Linked DNA regions of Homo sapiens. The protein of the gene in region 5 purifies or fractionates together with the protein of the main gene of each other region. This does not show direct contact. Each region holds a gene or a part of one and is shown on either strand. Other genes may lie near its edges. The genes, in order: CLGN, ABCD1, FADS1, PKP4, BACE2, ZC3H4 and CTPS2.

Region 1 (3,500 bases), on a different chromosome or scaffold from region 5:
CTTTTCTTTCTCCCCCTGATTTGGTCATATTATATTTTTTTGAAAAAGATTAATGTACTTGGTTTTCTTTCTCTCACATTGATGGTGAATTGTATTATCACTAACTTGTAGTTTGCCTCTCGCCCCCTATAAAGGTCTTATTTTAAGAAGTAACAACTTTATCTGGAAGTCCTAGCCAGCGCAATCTGGCAAGAGAAAGAAATAAAGGACATACAAATTGGAAACGAGGAAGTCAAGCTATCACTGTTTGCTAATGATATGATTGCATACCTAGAAAACCCAAAAGACTCATCCAATAGACTACTAGACTTGAAAAATCAATTCAATAAAAGTCTCAGCTTACAAAATCAATGTACACAAATCAGTAGTACTGCTACATAGCAACAACGACCAAACTGAAAATCAAATCAAGAACTCAATGACTTTTACAATGGCTGCAAAAAAAAAAAAAAAAATCCCTAGGAATATTCTTAACAGAGGTGAAAGATCTATCTATACAAGGAGGACTACAAAACACTGCTGAAAAAAATCATAGATGACACAAACAAATGGAAACACATCCCATGCTCATGGATTGGAAGAATCAATATCATGAAAATGATCATAGCGCCCAAAGCCATCTACAGATTCAGTGTGATTATTGTGAAAATACCAAAAACATTTTTCACAGAATTAGGAAAAAAAATCCAAAAGTTCATATGGAACCAAAAAAGAGCCTGAATAGCCAAAGTAATCCTAAGCAAAAAGAACAAATCTGGAGACATCACATTACCTGACTTCAAATTATACAGGGCCATACTATCAAAACAGCATGGTAATGGTCTCAGGTAGACACATAGACCACTGGAACAGAATAAAGAACCAGAAATAAAGCAAAATACTTACAACTAACTGATCTTTGACCAAGCATACAAAAATATAAATTAGGGAAAGGACACCCTATTTAATAAATGGTACTGAGAAAACTGGCAAGCCACATATAGAAGAATGAAACTGGATCCTTACTTGTCACCTTATACAAAAATCAACTCAAGATGGATTAAAGACTTAAACCTAAGATCTGAAACCATGAAAATTCTAGAAGATAACACCAGAAAAACTCTTCTAGACATTGGCTTAGGCAAAGAATTCATGACCAAGAACCCAAAAGCAAATGCAACAAAAACAAAAATAAATAAATGGGACCTAATTAAACTAAAAAGCTTCTGCACAGCGAAAGAAATAATCATCAGAGTAAACAGATAACCCACAGTGTGGGAGAAAATATTAATAACCTATGAATCTGACAAAGGACTAGTATCCAGAATCATGAGACTCAAACAAATCAGCAAGAAAAAAATTAATCCCATCAGAAAGTAGGCAAATGACATAAATAGACATTTCTCAAAAGAAGATATAGAAATGGCCAACGAACATGTTTAGAAAATGCTCAACATCACTAATCATCAAGGAAATGCAAATTAAAACCACAATGAGATACTACGTTACCCCTGTAAGAATGGCCATTATTAAAAAGTCAAAAAACAATTGGCATGGATGTGGTAAAAAGGGAACATTTATACACTGCTGGTGCAATGTAAATTAATACAGCCTCTATGGAAAACAGCATGGAGGTTTATTAAAAAACTGAAAGTAGATCTACTATTTGATCCAGAAATCCCACTACTGCTTTTTCTGTGCATATGGTGGTGTCCTTTTTGGAGTTGATAAGCATATATATATATATATATATATATACACACACACACATATATATACACACATATATGTGTATATGTATATATATTTGTGTATATATGTATATATGTGTATATATATACACAGGGGATTTGCTGGGATGGCGAACACCATGCAAAGGAAGACATGCAGGTATGATCTTTATCTTACACTAAACAGAAACTATGAAAAGGAAGCAGACAGCTGACATCCAACATGCTATCTGTTTTGCTGTTGTGATGTAACTGCTTATCAGAGTCTGAGTGCAGGGCCACATGTTTATGAGTATGAGGTCCTCTGAGAAAGAAGAAATTACCACTATCAGTCACTGTGAGAAGAGGCTGATCTTGCTTCAGCATATAACAATCAAGGAGGCTGGTTTTTAGACCACAAAGAAGAAAATATTTGGTCATACTCTAGGGTAGTCCTATTAGGGAAGACAATATGACCCCTGCCTATAGGACATTTCTTTCTAGAGCTAAGGTTGAAGATAATCCTATTAGACACCCTATGATAATGGATATAGACCTGGAGATGAGGATTCCAGAAGCAGCCACATATCTTGTAGCTCTCATTAGCTATCTTCTGCTTTTTACTTGCTAGGAGAATCTTACCATAAATTATAATTTATTTAATTTATAGATCAAGGTGTGTCTATGCTTGAGATGAAACCATAGAGACAGCAGTAGCCTGGGAAATACTGCTTCAGGAAATGCAAAAGACTAACAGCAGTAGAGTGAAAATTCAACTGTTCAGTTAGAAAACTAGATTAACTGGCTTAAGAGTGAGATTTTCAGAAATAGCGAAGGGTTTTTCAGAAATATTGAAGAGGGACAAGATAAAAGACTGAACATTTTATTGTGAGGCAGGGTGGGGGACTCCAGCCAACACAATTTAACAAAAATCTAATCTCAAAGTTTAGTGAACTCCAGGCCATACTGGTTATATCTAATACTTAAATAAATATTTTACCATCGTATATTGAAATTTCCTCATCCATGTCATCTTTCTTTGCTTTTGATAAGACCCATCTGTAAATAAAGTTGAACATACATATATGTCATTGACAATAAAAGCAGCAATTTATAGATATAAGGCATACAGAAACACAATAAAAGATCACCCAATACAGTCACTTTTCATTCAACAATAAATTCATACTTAGATGCTAAATAAGGATGCCTACACATAATCCTGAAGGGCTAGAGTTAAACCGAATTTGGAATCTATAATTTACTAGCTGTATGATCACAGGTAAGGTACAAGAAACCTCGGTTTCTCCACCTGTAAAATGGGGATTAAATATGGTAATTATCTACTTTTTTTAAGGACATCTGACACATAATAATCATTTAATATTAACTTTTGTTTTTTCCATTATTTAGAGTAGAGCAGTACTCATATTTGTCATCTGAACTTAAGAGTGTTAATCTGTCCTAGAGAATAAAGAAATGTTATAAATTTCATCTTTGCATTCGGAATTAGTATATTTTCTTTGAATAAATAACTATTCAAATTAAACATTCTATCAATTACAAAAATATACTAAGTACTGATTTACATTGTCAATTAAACTACTTTAAAATTTTTTATAGATCTGTAGTAGAGATAATTTTCATAGGCCAAAACCTAATAACTTCAAAAAAGCTAATAAATCAAAGAAAACATTCTCTTGAATGAATACTCACCCAGCCAACCTTCCACTATCAAAAGTTTCTGCAAAATATACTTCTCCTATAGGTTGAGGTGTCTTATATTTAATCTAGAAAAGAGATTTTCCAAGT
Region 2 (3,500 bases), on a different chromosome or scaffold from region 5:
ACAAATTGTCCTCCCTGAGTACCCTGTGTTTCTTTTTTTCTGGGTACTTTGATCACTTTCTTTCTTTTTGGCATTCTGCAGTTTCACTATGACATGTTTAGGTGTCAGTTTTTGTTGATTCTGCTTGAGACTTGTTATATGTCCTTTGAATATTTGAGTTTTTCAATCATTCTGGAAGATTCTCAGCTATTAGCTTTTCAGATATTGCCTGACTCTCATTCTTTTTTCCTGTTCTTCTAGAACTGGCAGCCAGTGCTGGACTTCTGACTCTCTTCGTTGTGTCTTTCGGTTTCTGTTTACTGTTTCCCATCTCACACTGTCTGTGCTGAATTCTGGGGATGCCCTGAGGCCTTCCTGTTTGCTCATTTTCCAGTTCACCAGTTTTCTCTTTGGCCATGTCTAATTGGAATTTTGTTCACATTTCAGTGGCTGTTTTGTAAGTTCTATTTCATTCTATTTCAAATAGGAATTTGAAAATGGACATTTCCTTTTTCAAGTAGAAATGTCAGGCTGTTTCTGTGTCTTATTTGCTCATCTTTTTGACTGCTCCTTTTATACTGTGTATCAGGTTAGTCATACTTACCCCACCGTCTCTATCTGATGGTTTGGTTAGCTTCAGTTCTTGGGAGTATCATTCGCCTGTCTTCTGTCTGCTGGTCTTCACTCATGGTGGATCATTTCCTTGTGGGTTTTGCAACAGAACTTCTATGGGGATTGGTGTGGCCTCAATGGAGGGTGTAAGTCCAAATGTCCTTCTGTTTTGGCCAAGCACTCCAGGGTAAGCAGTTGGAGGCCATTAGTTAGTGCGGAGGGGATGGTTCCTGAATTGAGAGGTGGTTTCATTTGAATTCATTTGAACTCCAGGCACATTGTTACAAATTTTCAGAGGAGGCTTTTTGTTCATTGGGCATAGAGCCCAGGCTAAGCAAGGAAAGCTTCCTGGTCTTTGCCCTGCCTGCCTCTGGGGCTATCAAAGGATCACCTGGCTGTCTGCTTCTCTTTGCTCCCAGAAGTTTCCCTTGCTTTCCGTCAAGCTTGGCTCTGCTCGAAATAGTGTCGTAGTTTACCCAGTTTGGTGGGAAGAGGGTTTTCGATTTATAAACAGAAGTCTGATTCTCTCCCTGTTCCTGTTTCCACCTCGGGGCTTCCATGCCCTCAACTGTCTGTGTCATCCTCTGGGTGACTCACCAAGAGGAAGGATCTAATTCGGGGACTGCACATCAAGGGCAGCCTTGATGCTGGCGTAGGTGCCCAGCCCAGTCAGCGCACCTAGCCCCGGGCACCGAGACAGCCCGCGAGACAGCACCTGCAGCCGCTTCGCTCCATGGCTGCCATTGGTCACATCGGGCTGCTCCCTGCCCTGAAGGCTTAGGACTTTTCTGAGCCTCTGCTGTGCCAGGCTTTGTGGGCTCCTGGCCCTGCTCTGGTGGTCCTCAGAGCCAGCAGCCTTTGAAGGCTGTGAAGCATTCCCTTTCCCCTGGCTTGATAGGCTCTGTCCTGTGGCCGTCTGTTTTTTTTTGGAGGGGGAGCTTTTGAGATGGAGTCTCACTCTGTCTCCCAGGCTGGAGTGCAGTGGCACGATCTTGGCTCACTGCAACCTCCATCTCCCGGGTTCAAGTGATTCTCCTGCCTCAGCCTCCCAAGTAGCTGGGACTACAGGTACACGCCACCATGCCTGGCTAATTTTTGTGTTTTTAGTAGAGATGGGGTTTCGCCATGTTGGTCAGGCTGGTCTTGAACTCCTGACCTCAAGTGATCCACCTGCCTCGGCCTCCCAAAGTGCTGGGATTATAGGTGTGAGCCACTGTGCCTGGTCCTGTGGCCTTCTTATTTCCCCAAATGCCAGGCCTGCTCTGTCTTGGGGCCTGTGCCAGGAGCACTCTTTCCTCTGCTGCCCCATGGCGCAGCCCCCCTAGGCAAGGCCCGGCCTGCCCACCGCCACCTTTCCTGTCTCCTTCCCTGCCCCACTGCTCTCCCAAGCACTCGACACCCCGTCAGTGGCGCTTTTCTCTCTCCCTGCCATGGACTGCAAGCTCCATGGGGTCAGGGATTTTTGTCTGTTTTGTCCCTGCTGTGTCCCCTGCATCGGGTGGCTAGTGAGGGCTCCAGGTGCTTCAAGGAGGTGGAGCGCACTGGGTGGGAAGGCAGGCTCTTACCGGTTGGAAGATTTAGATAAGCTTTGCTGGGCTGGTGTGCAAGGCAGGTGGGCTCAGGAGATGGGCAGGGCCTGTGGCTCCCACTCCAGCCCTGAGGCCTTGCTCTGTCCAGCTCTGGGGCCCTGGCCTTATTCACCCAAGGCTCCAAGAGAACCTGCAGAAGGCAGCTGGTTCTACGCCAGGATGCCCTGGGCACAAAGACTTGCAGACCCTTCCCTTTGTCCACAGCGACTGTCCAGCTCTCAGAACACCTGGGGAGGAGGGCTGTGTCCTTGAGAGCACCGTGGGAAGGAAGGTCCAAGGCCTTCGACCTTTAGGATTCACATCCCCGCCCCGCCAGCCCAATCTAGTTCCCTGGTTTCCCGGGCCAGGCCCCTTTCCACCCTGCATGGCCCTGAGCGGATACTGCGTTCCGTGTCTTCCCCCAGCCCCCAGCCAATGATCCCTGAGGCTTCCCCCTCAGGATCACACCCACCCCTGGATACAGTCCTCGGGTCCTTCACAGGACATTCCCACCACTTCAGCCACACCCCAGCACCCTCAGAGGCGGCCTTCGCCCTTGCTCCCCACCTCTGCTCCTGTGGGGAATCTAAGGATCAAGAAACTGAGAGTCAAGGCCATTGATGAGGGTCAGGGGTGCTGCCACGGGGCCTAGAGTGTGACAGAAAAGCAAATTAAGACAGGAGCAGCTCCTGGGAGAAGCAGACACCAAACAATACGGCTGCTGGCCCAGAGGTCAAAAACCATGGCCTAGAGGGGGCGGTCAGGAAGTGGGACATTAGGCCGGGCGTGGTGGCCCATGCCTGCAATCCCAGCATCTTTGGAGGCCAAGGCAAGTGGATCACCTGAGTTCAGGAGTTTGAGACCAGCCTGGCCAACATGGTGAGACTTCGTCTCTACTAAAAATACAAAAAAAATTCGCTGGGCTTGGTGGCGGGTGCCTGTAATCCCAGCTACTCGGGAGGCTGAGGCACAAGAATCCCTTGAACCTGGGGAGGCAGAGGTTGCAGTGAGCCAAGATCACACCACTGCACTCCAGCCTGGGCAACAGAGCAAGACTCCATCTCAAAAAAAAGAAAAGAAAAAAAAAAGAAAGTTGGCGTTTCAAAGCCAAACAGCTCTGGGCGTTGGATGACAAAGTTCAGATGTGCCCCAGGAGGGGCGACATCAGTGGTGCAGGACAGAGGGCCGGTGGAAGGAGCTGGCTGTACGTAGAAACAAAACCAGATGCCTACTGGTGCATTTAAAAATCAACGTTATTGAGACGTAATTAACATACTATACAATTCTTCCTTTTCCATGTACAGTTTAAATTCATTCACAGAGTTGTGCAGCCATCATCAC
Region 3 (3,500 bases), on a different chromosome or scaffold from region 5:
CTTGGTCTTGGCTCAATAGAGCCTCACTGGTGTTTGCTCAGATTGGGCAGCCTATGCCCAAAGCTACTTGGCTAAACAGGCTGGTGACACCACACCCAAAAGGTGGCAAAGAATAGGAATAGGAAGGATCAGCACCTATTTTGGAGTGAGGAAGCCAATGGAGGTACAACTCCTCAATTCTAAGTTTTTGTTGTTTTTTTTTTTTTTGAGACAGGGTCTTGTTCTATCACCCCAGGCTGGAGTGCAGTGGTGTGATCTCAGCTCGCTGCAGGCTTGACCTCCTGGGCCCAAGTGATCCTCCTGCCTGGACCTCCCAAAAGTGTTGGGATTACAGGCATGAGCCACTGCATCCAGCTTGCTTCTAATTTTCCTACCCAGGCTGTTTTAAACCTAGTTCTCCAGCTAAGTAAAATGTGCCCAAATGGAAAACATCTAAATCTTCTGCAGCCCATTCTTCCTGTGTCTTTGTGTTGACAAACCTCTAATCTTCCATGTCTTTGTGTTGACAAACCTAACCTTCCATGTCTTTTTGTTGACAAACCTCTAACCTTCCATGTCTTTGTGTTGACAAACCTCTCCATGGGTGGTGCATCTGACCCTATCCCAACATGCCTTAGGACGCTCATCTCCTTGACTGTCTGCCATCCCCTCCCAAAACTAAGTGGAGGCTCTGTCTTTTCCTCCTAGTTTGAGGTTCTCTTCTCCCAGTGTCTAAAATGATCAATATGCCTAGAGTAGATGCTGCTGAAGAGGCAAAGTAGTAATCCTGCCACCTGGAAGCAAAGGCTGTGGGTTGGAGGGGGAAGCGGGTGTGAGGGCTGATGATAAGCCCTAGGAGGCTCCTGAGTCATATTCCTATGTTTGCTCTCTGGAGAGATGGGCTAAACTGTTTATCTTTTAAAAACCAGATGATTAAAAAGTTACATTTTAGTATTATACTGATAGGAATATAGGATAATCTCTTCTAAAGCCTATTTGGTTTCCAGAAGAGTTAGATACTTGAACAAGAGTGGACAGAGTAAGATACCTAGCTACAGCAATAGAAATCACAAACTGTTCTGTGGTTTTAATCTTCCTATTTCTGATTTAGAAGTATGAAGTGATCATATTTAATCTTTCTGCTCCTGCTCAAAAATAATTCTATAACATCATTTAGGTTATAGAAAGTTTCTACTTATAGCCCTTACATTCTTTATGACCGAAATCTGTGTCTTTCCTCATGACTGATAATTATCTCCCAATTTGGTCACTTCTGCTAATTGCTATTTTATTAAACTTGAAATTTTAGGTTGGGAAGCAAAGGGAAACCACTGGGCATCCCCTTTGTTTCTAGGGAGAAAAGACTAACTTGTCCCATCTGCTCACTTGCTTATGGAGCTAAAAGACCCCCAGTCCTAGAAGTGTTCTGTTCCTGAGGAGTGGTTAAAGAGGTGAAAAGAAGAGGTGAATTAAAAGATGAAAGAGCTTTTTAAATAGCCAGCAACTCTCTCTACCATCTGTTTTGGTAAGAGCTAGCACCTCTTGTTCTCTTTAGACCCTGGAGGGAATAAACCAAAATCAGTGGTTCCAGGATCCTTCAGAGCCAAAAGACCCCAATACCACAGTCTTGACCTTTGCCCTGCCTGCTTCTGAAACTGGAGAATGGCATCTCCCAGCAGCCTAAGGCAGACATAGGTCATACCTATCCCTGGGCAGCGAGCTGAGCTCCCACAGACTGAGTTGTGCTGGATCTCAGAATTCTAAGCATTAATGTTTCCTTGCTGTTATAATTCTTGCTCATCAGGTTCAACTGCCTTATCCCTCTGAGGTTTGCAAATGAGGATGGAGAAGCCACTGAGAAATGGACCAGTGAGCTGAGCTCACCTTTTATATGAGTGGATTTTTTTTTTTTTTTTGAAATGGAGTCTTGCTCTGTCGCCCAGGCTGGAGTACAATGGCGTGATCTCAGCTCACTGCAACCTCCACCTCCCCGGTTCAAGCGATTCTCCTGCCTCAGCCTCCTGGGTAGCTGGGATTACAGGCGCGTGCCACCACGCCCGGCATGAGTGGAATTTTAGTGTTAAATCTCTTCCTGACTCTGGGTTCAGTAGGTCCCTCCTCTTCTGTTACCCTCCTGGTTCTCTCTGTTCACCAACTACCTGCATGTGCCAAACTAGAAAAAGGAAATAATTTACACCCCTGCCCCAACAGCTCCTTCCCTCCTAGGGACTTCTGTGTCCACCCCCCACTTTGGGTCTTAGAACTGTGGCTAGAAGATAAAAGGGAGGAGTTTGAGTCAGAGGCTTTATGTCCCCAAACCCAACCCCCTCTGAGTATTAAACTATAGTGGCATTGTCCCTCAAGCTCCCCTCTGCCTTGGCTCCAGAGTCTTCCTCCTCTTCTTCCAGACTGGGCAGGGTGGCTGTTGTTATTGGTGAAGATAGGCATCTAGCCAGAGCTGCCCTGACTCCTTTAGTGAGCTGCAGGGACAAAATGGGGGCAGACAGTGAGGGAGACAAGCAGAGTTGAACCCACCGGAGATGGAGCAGTGAGGTTAAGGCCTTCTTCCATCTGGAGGTTTTCCTCCCCTCTACTTTAGAGAAAGCTAGCTTGGGCCATGGTACTGAGGGGAACCCCAATGAGGGCAAAGGCCTGACCTGGCCACAGGTCCAATAAAGAATCCTGCCTTTGCCATGGTGAACTCCATCCCACACGACTGGGAACACCTTCTGTTCACTCCCCACCCTACATGTCATCATTTCCATTGCCCTGCCCTCTTCCCTCCCTACTAGCCATCTTCCTGGTCTCAGATACTCACTGGATGATGTCGGCGAAGGCTGACAGCAGGGGCTTGGACTGGTACTCTATGCCATGCTTGGCACACAAGGACTGCACCAGGGGAGCCACTTTGTGGTAATTGTGTCGAGGCATCGTGGGAAAAAGACTTTAGGGAGAACGGGGGAGTCAGTGGTTCCTGCTTCTCTGCTCCCACCTGTACCCAACACTTACACCCTCCCCAGGACCCTGCTTCCCCAGGCTCCCTACTCACTGGTGCTCAATCTGGAAGTTGAGGTGTCCACTGAACCAGTCATTGAAGGCAGACTTGTGGACATTGCATGTGGCCTGGAGCTGGCGGAAAAGGTCAGGGGAGAGCATGTTGAATATCAGATGGAAAGGCCAGCCCAGCATTCTCCAGGTAAAGCTGGCTGAGGAAGGGACATGAGACTGTCTTGGTCACTCCCTTCACATGGTTGCAGAACAAGAGCCTCAGGCTAATGAGAAAATGCTGTTTGGGGGACTTTTTGTTTTTGCTGTTTTCACCTACGCATCCTTTTCAATAGTTGTGTTATGCTCCAGTCTTCTGAGTGACTGTCCCTTACCTGGGTGGAAACCCAGTCCATGTTCCGGTCATGATCAATGTGCATGGGAATATGGTTCATCTGTGTCACCCACACAAACCAGTTGCTTTCCAGGAACCTGTTAGATGTATTACACAGACAAAAACAGTACACACAGAGCCC
Region 4 (2,489 bases), on a different chromosome or scaffold from region 5:
CATAGCATAAATTATGAATAACTTGGAAAGTTCTTTTTCTTCCACCTACAGAGAAAAGATGACGAGAAGGAGAGGTCTTAGAACACATCCTTATCTGAAGGACAGGATACAGTCTTGTTTTAGGAAACTCCAGCTGCTCTGTGTCATTGAAAGGGAAGAGGAGAGACCAGATGGTCCAAGTTCGCCATGGCACTGGTAAGGACCTGAGACTGACTGCAGGCCCTTCATGAAAGCAAAGCCTGGGTGTGTTATAACCGCCAGTCCCACTCTCCCACAGTGAGGTCCATCCCGGCAGGGGCTGAGTCCACCTTGACCACTGAGACAAACAGACCTGGTGATGGACTCAGTGTTTTTAAATTGTGGAGCTTGGACAGGGAGGGGCGAGATGGAGAACGAGGTATACACAAAAGAGAACAATGTGATGAGGGCATGAAGTGTGCTTACCAACCTTCCCTCACTCAGAGGCTGGAAGAGATTTTAGAGCTTAACAGAAAAAGAGTGGGAAGAGGACACTGCTGGGCAAAAGACATGAACTAAAGACTTCTCGGCTGTCCCCATCAGTGGCACGGTGGTCTCAGCAGTACCGATGTGGATACTCAAGAACGTGAGGCTACCGTGGAAATGCTTTGCTTAAACCACACGTTGAGTTTCCAAGGAGTGAAGATCCCCAGGGAAAGCATCTAGGACCCTGCCATGTTGGCCCAGCTCTGGGAAGTCAATCGACGTGGACCCCTTACTGTGTTAACTGCTAATCAGCCTTCTGTAAAAATGATATTGCAAATTCACCTGTAGCCGTCTATTTTGTTCTCTTGCTGGTGAGGAATAGGAACTGATGTAAATTGGTGAAGGTTTGCTGGAGCCTGTAAGAAAATATTTTATGAAATTAAAACTAGTGCTTATTACTCTGGTCCATTAGGCTGGGTGGTCTCCCCTGCACTAGGGCTAGCACTGTCCCCGACAGGGCCTGTCTTCCCCAGTGCCAATGCGGGCTGGGAGAGGTAGCAGCTCAGGGTCCCTGGATCTGGCCTGGCTGCTGCTTACCTCAGGGCTGGTGGGGGCTAATGGCAAAACTATGGCAGAAACAGGCTGTGTGTGTTTCCCCAAAAAGCAATGCCAGTGCAGAGCCCATGCGCAAAGGTTCCTGCTCAAGCTCTGCTCACATGTGGGAGGGTTTCTCCAGCTGGCTTTGGACAGCAGCACGGGATCCTGAGCTGAGGAACACTCCTTTTCCAGGGCTCTGAGCTACGGCAGTGGGTCAGAGAGGAGAAGCGAAACACAATATTCGAACAAGCCCCATGCCTTCCAAACAAACAACTGGGATTCAAAATCTCAGGTCAAGGAAGGAGCAACAATGGAGGCACAGTCTTGTACCTGGCATATTTAAGTATGTTTTAATACAAAAGGAACTTGGTAATAATGAGATAATTGTCTTCAAAAGTCCATAGTAGACTCCTGATGATGTTACCCTTCCATTATTATTAAGGCTAGCAAAGATTTTTATTTTTTTAATGAGGAAAATGAAACGTAGTTGAGGCAAATTAGTTTATTGAAGCAAGCGAAGAAGATACAGAAGGGCATGCATGCTAAAGAGGTGATCTGTAAGATAAAGCAGGCTGCTGCAAATCGGAAGCAACCATGCACTTCAGTTGGTATGTGCATTTCCTTTTGCCCAGAGCTTGGTGTTGAAATGTAGCATCTGCAATTTTCTGAGCTATTAATTGCCATAGTAACAACAGTCGATTAGTAAATAGTCCTGTGAAATCACAATTTCAAAGACAACAGTACAATGGAGACTGCCCCCCCAGCAGGAGTAAAGCTGCCACCAGCTTTTATTTATTTTTAATAGACAGGTTTGAGAAAAGAGTACTTTTTGTGGGGTAGCTCACACTGACTTATTTGGAACATCTAAAGTAGTTATAATCGCCAGACGGTTGAGAATGGGAACAGTATGAAATCTTAGTAACCCTTTGGGCTGGTATCCTTTAAATAAATTGTATGCACAGCTTTCTGAATAGGATATAAAAATATTAACACTATGTAACATTATTTTTGTTATTCTTAAAAAATAATCACGTTGAGAAGAATCACATTATACCTTTTGCTATTTATTCAAACTCTTCTCCATGAAAATGTAAATGAAATTGATCTCCATTCTCTGGTTTGAATTTAAGAGATGAGCCAGTCTAGAAGATGTGGCCCCTGCAAAGTGACACTGGGCTGACGGTTCTGATGCATGTGGAAAACACAGAGACTGCTCGAGCCAGGAGGGGACGGAGCAAAGGGACTGTGCCAGTGAGCAGCCAGAAATGATTTATTTGGATACAGCCCTCTTTTTATTTGTGCCCACCGTACAACTACATACATACATACATACAAACAAGTACATGCTTGTTTTACTTTAAACAAGCAGAAAAGGCAACAATCCCCAAAGTAGGAAAGGGAATGACTGGAACATGGTTTGCTGCTGGGGGACTGTCTCAATACAAGCA
Region 5 (3,500 bases):
TCTCTATTTAACATGTTTAACATTTTCTCTGGCATCCTGAGTAGAATACAGTTATAATAAATATCTTGATATCCTGCCTGCTAATTCTATCATCTGTGCCATTTCTTACTAAGTTCCAATTGATTGATTTTGCTCCCTATTATGAACTGTGTTTTCCTGCTTCTTTGCATAATTAGTGCTGTAGAATCAATGTTTATGTCCTGCCAAAATTCTTATGTTGAAACCTATCGGGGGAACCTGCCCCCGATAATTCAACATTATTTCACGTAGGTTCTTTTCTATTTCCTTAAGTGTCAGCCGGTCTGAGAAATAAAGGGAAAGAGTACAAAAGAGAGAAATTTTAAAGCTGGGTGTCCAGGGAAGACATCACATGTCGGCAGGTTCGTGATGCCCCCTGAGCTGCAAAACCAGCAAGTTTTTATTAGTGATTTTCAAAGGGGAGGGAGTGTACGAATAGGGTGTGGGTCACAGAGATCACATACTTCACAAGGTAATAAAATATTACAAGGCAAATGGAGGCAGGGCAAGATCACAGGACCAGGGCGAAATCAAAATTGCTAATGAAGCTTTGGGCACGCATTGTCATTGATAACATCTTATCAGGAGACAGGGTTTGAGAGCAGACAACTGGTCTGACCAAAATTTATTAGGCGGAAATTTCCTTGTCCTGATAGGCCTGGGAGCGCTATGGGAGACCGGGGCTTATTTCATCCCTTATCGGCAACCGTAAAAGACAGACATTGCCAGAGCAGCCATTTCAGGGACCTACCCCTAGGAACACATTCTTTTTCTCAGGGCTGTTCCTGCTGAGAAAAATAATTCAGCGATATTTCTCCTATTTGCTTTTGAAAGAAGAGAAATATGGCTCTGTTCCGCCCGGCTCTCAGGCAGCCAGACCTAATGGTTATCTCCTTTGTTCCCTGAACATTGCTGTTAGCCTGTTCTTTTCTCAAGGTGCCCAGATTTCATATTGTTTAAACAATTTGTGCAGTTAACACAATCATCACAGGGTCCTGAGGTGGCATACATTCTCAGCTTAGGAAGATGATGGGATTAAGAGATTAAAGTAAAGACAGCATAGGAAATCACAAGAGTATTGATTGGGGAAGTGATAAATGTCCATGAAATCTTCACAATTTATGTTCAGAGATTGCAGTAAAGACAGGCGTAAGAAATTATAAAAGTACTAATTTAAGGAACTAATAAATGTCTGAAATCTTCACAATTTATGTTCTTCTGCCATGGCTTTGGCCAGTCCCTCCGTTCGGGGTCCCTGACTTCCCGCAACAGAAACCTAATCTCCAAGGTGATGATATTTGGAGTTGGGGCCTTTGGAAGGTGATTAGGTCACGAGGGCAGAGCTTTTCTTTGTAAATGGAATTACTGCCCATTATTAAAGACAGTCCAAGAGAGCTCCCTTGTCTCTTCCACCATGTAAAGACACAGCAAGAAGATCATTATCTACAAACCAGGAAATGGGAGTATAGATTGACTGCAGGGTGCATCCCTCTGTTCTCGGTGTTGGCAGGCTCTTGTTCATTGCCTTTCTTTTTCAGTGCACTTAGGAAAGCCATATTATGACAGAATCCACATTAGCAAGAAAATGCAGTCACTTTGCAAAGTAATCAAGCCTGTTTTCCTCTGATTTTAAAACCATTCTTTTCAGGTCATTATCGCATTGTTATTTTGACTTTTTCTTTCCTCAGTCAAAAAGGGTATTATTTGGCAGCTCTGAAGATCTTGAGGCTTTAGTTACAGAAAAATCAAATTCTTAGCAGTGTTATTTTCTGGTGCCAAAATATTCATTTCTGTGATTAAATATAGGAAAAATGGGTAATGAGGCCTATTTCTTTTCCGTATTGCAAGTAAAGCTTAAGATCCCATATTCCTGAAAGGGGCAGAGAAGCCTAGTGTAGGCAAAGGAAGTCTACAGATAATCCACAAACCGGCTTTAAGAAATCATCTCAACTTCCTTCTTGGTTTGAAGTTATTCAAGAGTCTCTAGCAGAAGTCACCGGGTGAATTTTAACTGTTTCTCTTTGTCACCAGTGATGTCATGAATTAGGTGTTGCATTCACTTACTGCTCCTGGCTGTTGATGAGACCTAGGATAAGAGTGGGGCAGGGAGGGTCTCTCAAGCCAGCCTGACCCCCGGAGGTCTCACAACCCACTAAGACTATGAGTCAGGTTGATATGAGGTCCCTATCTGTTGTAGAATCCATGGTAGGGAGTGAACTCAGGTTGACTCCACTGGGGAAAATTCCCCATGACGTAGGCAGGTCCAGCTGAGCTTTCTGCGGTAAATTCTCCTTCTCTTTCTCCTCTTTTTTCATCTCCACTGAGGAAGCACAACCCACACAGCTGTCATGACCAGGTGCTGACCTGCACTCTCACCTGTGTAGTACCGCAGTGTCGCTGGCATTCCATGAAGCACAGGGTGCTTCCATATGTGCCCTGCTGCAGTTCCCCTCCACACCTAGGCTCGGTACCCACACACCTTAAAACATGCCGTCGTTCCAGTTTGCAGGGACTGGACCCCCAAAGGCACGCTGAGCCGTGACCCCACTCAGTGCTTCCTGAGCTGTCTAAGCCACTGGGACCTCAGTGGACTTTAACTGTGGTTTAATAAACCAAGGGGTTCTGTCTGTGTCCAATGTGAGAGGTGGACCGCTCATTTCACAGCTGTGGATTTTCCCTTTCTGTCTCCCCAGAAATTGCAGGTGCTGCAGTGTCTGAAATTTCCGGGCCTTTCTCAACAGAGGATGTAGCCAGCAACTGTGTCCCCGCTCAGTCTTTGAGCGAGCCCATTTTGTGGATTGTGTCCTATGCGCTCATGAGCGTCTGTGGAGCCATCCTCCTTGTCTTAATCGTCCTGCTGCTGCTGCCGTTCCGGTGTCAGCGTCGCCCCCGTGACCCTGAGGTCGTCAATGATGAGTCCTCTCTGGTCAGACATCGCTGGAAATGAATAGCCAGGCCTGACCTCAAGCAACCATGAACTCAGCTATTAAGAAAATCACATTTCCAGGGCAGCAGCCGGGATCGATGGTGGCGCTTTCTCCTGTGCCCACCCGTCTTCAATCTCTGTTCTGCTCCCAGATGCCTTCTAGATTCACTGTCTTTTGATTCTTGATTTTCAAGCTTTCAAATCCTCCCTACTTCCAAGAAAAATAATTAAAAAAAAAACTTCATTCTAAACCAAAACAGAGTGGATTGGGCTGCAGGCTCTATGGGGTTCGTTATGCCAAAGTGTCTACATGTGCCACCAACATAAAACAAAACCAAGCCTTGGCTCGTTCTCTTCTCTCTTCAATCTCTGGAAAAATAAGTACATATAGTTGATAACCCCTCTTAGCTTACAGGAAGCTTTTTGTATTAATTGCCTTTGAGGTTATTTTCCGCCAGACCTCAACCTGGGTCAAAGTGGTACAGGAAGGCTTGCAGTATGATGGCAGGAGAATCAGCCTGGGGCCTGGGGATGTAACCAAGCTGTACCCTTGAGA
Region 6 (2,545 bases), on a different chromosome or scaffold from region 5:
AAGAAAAAGAAAAGAAAAAAGGAACACCCAGCCTGCCTCCCCTTGCCCCCAAGTTCCCTACCCTGGGTGCTGCCCTGAATGCCACCCTAGGAAGGGTGGCTGGAGCCGCAGCTCTGGCTGGACACTACTGGCAAAAGGGGGAGGCCGTGGGGTCGAAGCCTTTAAAAACATCCTTCAGGGATGCCGCATCCTGCTCACCCTCGCGGGCCGGACTGTTCCCAGCAAATGGGCTTCCTGAGCCCGTCTTGGGTGTCTGCTTCACCGTCCCGAAGAGGGTGGGCACGGGCAGGTTGTGCACCCCGGGCTGGGGTGGGGCACCCTCGGGGGGTGGGGTGGCGGTGGTGGCAGCGGGGGCTGCAGCAGCCTTGGGCCGGGGCCGGTTGTAGCTGTTGTATCTGTCCGTGGGGGTGCCCCCATCAGCACCGGCCTTCCCTGTCTCTGGCTGTTCCAGGGCAGACTTGCGGACGAACGGGGGCTCCTTAGCCTTGGAGGCCGAGCTCTTGCCATTGCCCTCAGCACCCTTGGGCTGGGCACCCGTGTCAGCAGCCGGCTCTGTGGCTTTGCCCCCCGCGTTGGGAGTCCTCGGGTCGTAGAGGCTGATACCGCTCAGCACACTGCTCTGCCCGCCCCCTCCGCCCTGGCCCAGTCCACCGGCCGCCAGCACGCGGGGGTCGTAGGGAGCGGTGGCTGGTGGGGAGGCATCCCCACTCGGGCTGGCGGTGGGAGAGGGCGCCTCAGCAGGGCCGGGCTTGGCAGCCCGGGAGGAGGCCGTAGAGTCTGTGGGTTTCTGCAGCCGAGGGTCGGTGGGGGCCTTCCGCACCCGGGGGTCACTGGGTTTGTCGCTGGAACCGGGGGCGGCCGAGGAGCCGGTGGCATTGACTGTCTTGAGGATGCGAGACAGAAGTTCAAAGTCGGGGAGGTTGGCGCCCTGTGTGCTGGAATCCGTGGAGGCGCCCGGGCGCTGCCGGGCGTTGGGGGGCCCTGCCGTGGCAGCGCGGTGCAGCCGGGGGTCCAGGGTGGGCATGGATTGCAGGGCCGCGGGCACGGGGGGCACTGCGTCCTGCTTGGGGATGGGTAGGGGGATCAGGTCCTCGGGATTCCAGAGCACGGTGCGGGCGAAGCTGGGCTTGCTCAGGGTCACGTCCTTCTTGATGTGGCTGAACTGCTGCAGCTGTGACCGTGGGTCCCGCAGAGGGTGCCCGGGGAGTGGGTCCAGGGGAATGTTCACGGCCTTCTCCCGCAGGGCCCGCTCCCCTTCCTCCTCCTCCGTTGGGGGCGGCCCAGACCCCTTGGAACTGCTGGGGCCCACAGGGCTGGAATGAAGGCTGCCTTCGGGCTTGGAGGTGGGCAGGGCGCGAGCCAGCCGAGGATCGGAGGGTCCCGAATCACCTGGGCCAGACCCGCCAGAAGCCTCCACATGGCGGGTGAGTCTGGGGTCCCGGCTGAGGCGAGGGTCAGCCAGCCGGCTTCCTGTGGGGTGTCCCTTCTGGAGGCGGGGGTCCCCCAGCCCACTGCTGCTCAGCTCCCCAACTGAAGCCGGGGGTCGGCTGGACGTCTGCTGCCTCAAGGTCTTCAGGATGGAGGTGACACTGCTTCCACCCTCATCCTCATCACTTGAGTACCAGTTTCCGGTGTCACCTGGGAAAGAACAGAGGAGCAGGGAGGGGTGAGTGGGCGCATCCACCACCCGCCCTCTTGGATCCCACAGCAGCCCACCGTGAGCAGCTCCTTTGCTTGTGCCTCTCAGAACCTCAGGTCCTCCTCTCTAAGGCTCCCTCCCCACAGTGGGCGGCTGAGGAGACCCAGAGAGCTAAGGCGCTCGGTTTATGCCATGCTCCCCAGCTCTCCTCAGTGGCGGCACTGCACTAAGTAGTTTGTTTTATTTAAATAACTCACAACCACCCCAGGAGGTAGTGATACTATCATGCCCATTTGACAGATGTGAAAACAGAAGCACAGTGCCGTTACATTGGAGTCAGGGCCAGGATCGGGCTAGGACTCCTAACCCAGAGCTCTGCTGTTTCCTCCCGCCCACCTCCGGGCTGGTTCAGCCCCCACTGTGGCAAGTCCAGCTGTGGGCACCTCTTTCTGGAGGTCCTGGTAGCAGACACCATTGACTCAGTTCTGGCTGGGCCTGGGGCTCAGAGACACTTGACCCCAAACCGGCTCGTGATGTCCCCATGTCCCAGGGAGGGGCTGGTGTGGACCAACCGCAGTCACCAGCTGATAAGAGGCAGGGCCGGCTGGGCAGACTCAGACATGGGCTCAAGCAAAACCTAGGCCAGTACAGCCTGGGCCATCAGGGGAGCGGCCCCTCCTCCTGCTGTCCCACTGGCTCCTGCGCTACAGTCAGGGCCACCTGTGGCCTCTGGCTTCAGGATCTAGACACCACTTGTCATTTTACCCCAAAGTGGACACCACTAAGTCAACCATGCAGCAACTGAGACTCGGTGGCTCGTGACTATGATTATTACTGGTTAATTTCAATGACTAGCTCTTGTTTGTTGGCTCCTTGAGAACACGGTAGGAAAACAGGGGCTGTGAG
Region 7 (3,500 bases), on a different chromosome or scaffold from region 5:
TCCCAGCACTTTGGGCAGCCAATGCAGGCAGATCACTTAAGATCAGGAGTTCGAGACCAGCCTGGCCAACATGGTGAAACCCTGTCTCTACTAAAAATAAAAAATTAGCCAGGTGTGGTGGCAGGCACCTGTAATCCCAGCTACTTGCGGGGCTGAAGCACGAGAATCACTTGAACCTGGGAGGCAGAGGTTGCAGTGAGCCCAGATCGTGCCACTGCACTCCGGTCTGGGCAACAGAGTGAGACTCCGACTCGAAAGGTAAGAAAAATTTTGGCCAGGTGCAATGGCTCATGCCTGTAATCCCAGCACTTTGGAAGGCTGAGGCAGGCGGAACACCTGAGGTCAGGAGTTTGAGACCAGCCTGGCCAACATGATGAAACCCTGTCTCTACTAAAAAATACAAAAGTTAGGCTGGGCATAGTGGCTCACACCTGTAATCCCAGCACTTTGGGAGGCCAAGGCGGGTGGATCACCTGAGGTCAGCAGTTTAAGACCAGCCTGGCGAACATGGTGAAATCCCATCTCTACTAAAAATACAAAAATTAGCCGGGCGTGGTTGTGGGCACTTGTAATCCCAGGTACTCAGGAGGCTCAGGCAGGATAATTGCTTGAACCTGGGTGGAGGAGGTTGCAGTGAGCTGAGATCGCACCATTGCACTCCAGTCTGGGTGACAAGAGCGAAACTCTGTCTCAAAAAAAAAACAAACAAACAAACAAACAAAAATTAGCCGAGCATGGTAGTATGCGCCTGTAATCCCAGCTACTCGGGAGGCTGAGGCAGGAGAATCACTTGAACCTGGGAGGCGGAGGTTGCAGTGAGCTGAGATCACGCCACTGCACTCCAGCCTGGGCAACAGAGTGAGACTCTGTCTCAAAAAAAAAAAAAGAAAAGAAAATGTTTTAAAAAAGAAAGTCTCCTTTCTAAATTTATAGATCTTGTGATTTTTAAGTTGACAGTCATAAGGAAAATTTATTTGACTTTTCTGCTGCTTTCTGATTCAAACCCTTTTGTTTTATAGGAAGCCCAATAACTTGATTTTCTTTACTTTGAGTACTATTGTTTTTCCCTTGAGTGTGTACAGGGGCCTTCTGCTCTTGTAATTTCACCATGTATGTGAAAGTAGACCATAAACAGTATTATTTGTGTACTCATGGCAGGCAAATGGGCAACTGAGTAAGACCACAATATAAAATTACAGTTACAGAAAAAGAAAAATAATGCCAGGCATGGTGGCTCACATCTGTAATCCCAACACTTTGGAAGGCTGAGGTGGGAGGATCTCTTGAGGTCAGAAGTTCGACACCAACCTGGTCAACATAGTGAGACTCCCTCTCTACAAAAGAAAAATAAAACATTAGCCAGGTGTGGTGGCACACACCTGTAGTCCCAGCTACTGGGGAGGCTGAGGCAGGAGGATTGCTTGAGCCCAGGAGGTCAAGGCTGCAGTTAGCCAAGTGATTGTGCCACTGCACTCCAGCCTGGGTGACAAAGCAAGATCCTGTCTCAAAAATAAAAAGAGAGACCAGGTGCGGTGGCTCATGCCTGTAATCTCAGCACTTTGGGAGGCCAAGGCGGGCGGATCACCTGAGGTCAGGAGTTCAAGACCATCCTGGTCAGCGTGGCGAAACAATGTCTCTACTAAAAATATAAAAAGTAGCCGGGCGTGGTGGCGTGTGCCTGTGGTCCCAGCTACATGAGCTGCATGGGAGGCTGAGGCAGGAGAATCACTTGAAGCCGGGAGGCGGAGGTTGCAGTGAGCTGAGATCACACCACTGCATTCCAGCCTGGACAATAGGGTGAGACTCGGTACCAAAAAAGAAAAAATAAAAAGAGAGAGAGAGAGAGACAGTAACTAACAAAAGGTAATAACTATAAATTTCACTTTCATTTGTAATTTCACAATTTTTTTACATACTTGGAAATTCAGCACAAATGCATTCGGGTAGGAACAATTTCAGTTACCCACTTCTTATTTGTCCTCCTCAAAGGAATGCCCATTCTGATTTTGTGGTTTCCTCTGCTTACCTTTCAAAACAAACTATCTTAACTAAAGTTATCACACGTCAGAGCTGTGAATTCCATTTGAACTAGCTGACCATGGTCAGGCTGAGTAAACTGAAGCTATTCAAAATATACATGTTCCATCCCAGATGGCCTCCCTAAGTCCCTGGGCCTACCTTTCTCTACACAACACAGTTGATCACATTCAATGCCATCGCACATCTTCACTAGTCACCAGGGCACCCACCTATCTGACCTATGTTTATAGCTTAAAACATTGTCAATCCAAACCCAGAGCCAAGATCACACCATTGCACTCCAGTCTGGACAACAGAGTGAGACTCCGTCTGAAATAAATAAATAAATAAATTATATATATACATATATTACATATATAATGTTTATTTGAACATCTATTACATGCTTGACATATTTCCAAGTCCTAGGAATATGGAGATAAACAAAAAGACAAGGTCTATGTTCCACTGGACTTCACCTTTCCTGCAGGATTAAGGGGCAAATAAACTGTGCTTTAATTATACCTTATTCTGGCACTGTTATACTGTTCAAATGACTCTCTTTGTAAAAGTTACCGAAATGGAAAAATGCCGTAGAGGTATGGTGAAGAAAACTGGCATACATTCGTACAAGTCACATTATGCCTAATAAATTTTTGTATAAGAAAATGCTTCTTTGGGAGGCTGAGGCAGGCGGATCACCTGAGGTCAGGAGTTCGAGACCAGCCTGGCCAACATGGTGAAACCCTGTCTCTACTAAAAATACAAAAATTAGCCAGGCGTGGTGGCAGGCGCCTGTAATCCCAGCTACTTGGGAGGCTGAGGCAGGAGAATCGCTTGAACCCGGGAGGCAGAGGTTGTAGTGAACCCAGATAGCACCATTGCACTCCAGCCTGGGGGACAAGAGCGAGACTTCGTCTCAAAAAAAAAAGTTAAAAAAAAAGAAAATGCTTATGTGGCCGGGCACGGTGGCTCACGCCTGTAATCCCAGCACTTTGGGAGGCCAAGACGGGCGGATTGCCTGAGCTCAGGAGTTCGAGACCAGCCTGGGCAACATGGGGAAACCCCATCTCTACTAAAATACAAAAAATCAGCCAGGTGTGGTGGCGTGCACCTGTAATCCCGGCTACTCAGGAGGCTGAGGCACGAGAATTGCTTGAACCTGGGAGGTGGAGGTTGCAGTGAGCCAAGATTGTGCCAGTGCCCTCCAACCTGGGCAACAAAGTAAAACCGTGTCTCAAAAAAAAAAAAAAAGGAAGAAAGAAAATGCTTATGTTACCTGAAAAAGAGAGCAGACTATAAAATTGAATATATTATTGACTATGTTTTTTTAAACTAAGATCTAAATTTTATTTGTCACCACTAAGATTTCCATCTTATGGCCGGGTGCAATGGCTCACGCCTGTAATCCCAACACTTTGGGAGGCCAAGGCGGGCGGATCACAAGGTCAAGAAATCAAGACCATCCTGGCCAACATGGT

Evidence for each region.
Region 1: the proteins of BACE2 (region 5) and CLGN purify together in Homo sapiens (co-immunoprecipitation; one large-scale study listed by IntAct). This does not show direct contact.
Region 2: the proteins of BACE2 (region 5) and ABCD1 purify together in Homo sapiens (affinity purification with mass spectrometry; one large-scale study listed by BioGRID and IntAct). This does not show direct contact.
Region 3: the proteins of BACE2 (region 5) and FADS1 purify together in Homo sapiens (affinity purification with mass spectrometry; one large-scale study listed by BioGRID and IntAct). This does not show direct contact.
Region 4: the proteins of BACE2 (region 5) and PKP4 purify together in Homo sapiens (affinity purification with mass spectrometry; one large-scale study listed by BioGRID and IntAct). This does not show direct contact.
Region 6: the proteins of BACE2 (region 5) and ZC3H4 purify together in Homo sapiens (affinity purification with mass spectrometry; one large-scale study listed by BioGRID and IntAct). This does not show direct contact.
Region 7: the proteins of BACE2 (region 5) and CTPS2 purify together in Homo sapiens (affinity purification with mass spectrometry; one large-scale study listed by BioGRID and IntAct). This does not show direct contact.

The regions. Positions count from the first base shown.
Region 1 is NC_000004.12:140,407,149-140,410,648, forward strand, and holds part of CLGN (calmegin precursor), read right to left. Parts: intron 3,479-3,500; coding exon 3,405-3,478; intron 2,748-3,404; coding exon 2,689-2,747; intron 1-2,688. UniProt on the Homo sapiens protein: Functions during spermatogenesis as a chaperone for a range of client proteins that are important for sperm adhesion onto the egg zona pellucida and for subsequent penetration of the zona pellucida.
Region 2 is NC_000023.11:153,731,356-153,734,855, forward strand, and holds part of ABCD1 (ATP-binding cassette sub-family D member 1), read left to right. Parts: intron 1-3,496; exon of another isoform or gene 3,497-3,500. UniProt on the Homo sapiens protein: ATP-dependent transporter of the ATP-binding cassette (ABC) family involved in the transport of very long chain fatty acid (VLCFA)-CoA from the cytosol to the peroxisome lumen.
Region 3 is NC_000011.10:61,800,004-61,803,503, forward strand, and holds part of FADS1 (acyl-CoA (8-3)-desaturase), read right to left. Parts: intron 3,457-3,500; coding exon 3,360-3,456; intron 3,109-3,359; coding exon 3,029-3,108; intron 2,924-3,028; coding exon 2,798-2,923; intron 2,460-2,797; coding exon 2,408-2,459; 3' UTR 1-2,407.
Region 4 is NC_000002.12:158,676,952-158,679,440, reverse strand, and holds part of PKP4 (plakophilin-4), read right to left. Parts: intron 861-2,489; coding exon 787-860; intron 196-786; exon of another isoform or gene 52-195; intron 1-51. UniProt on the Homo sapiens protein: Plays a role as a regulator of Rho activity during cytokinesis. May play a role in junctional plaques.
Region 5 is NC_000021.9:41,272,660-41,276,159, forward strand, and holds part of BACE2 (beta-secretase 2 isoform A preproprotein), read left to right. Parts: intron 1-2,711; coding exon 2,712-2,965; 3' UTR 2,966-3,500. UniProt on the Homo sapiens protein: Responsible for the proteolytic processing of the amyloid precursor protein (APP).
Region 6 is NC_000019.10:47,066,232-47,068,776, forward strand, and holds part of ZC3H4 (zinc finger CCCH domain-containing protein 4), read right to left. Parts: intron 1,639-2,545; coding exon 125-1,638; 3' UTR 1-124. UniProt on the Homo sapiens protein: RNA-binding protein that suppresses transcription of long non-coding RNAs (lncRNAs). LncRNAs are defined as transcripts more than 200 nucleotides that are not translated into protein.
Region 7 is NC_000023.11:16,706,170-16,709,669, forward strand, and holds part of CTPS2 (CTP synthase 2), read right to left. Parts: intron 2,350-3,500; exon of another isoform or gene 2,250-2,349; intron 1,329-2,249; exon of another isoform or gene 1,240-1,328; intron 1-1,239. UniProt on the Homo sapiens protein: Catalyzes the ATP-dependent amination of UTP to CTP with either L-glutamine or ammonia as the source of nitrogen. Constitutes the rate-limiting enzyme in the synthesis of cytosine nucleotides.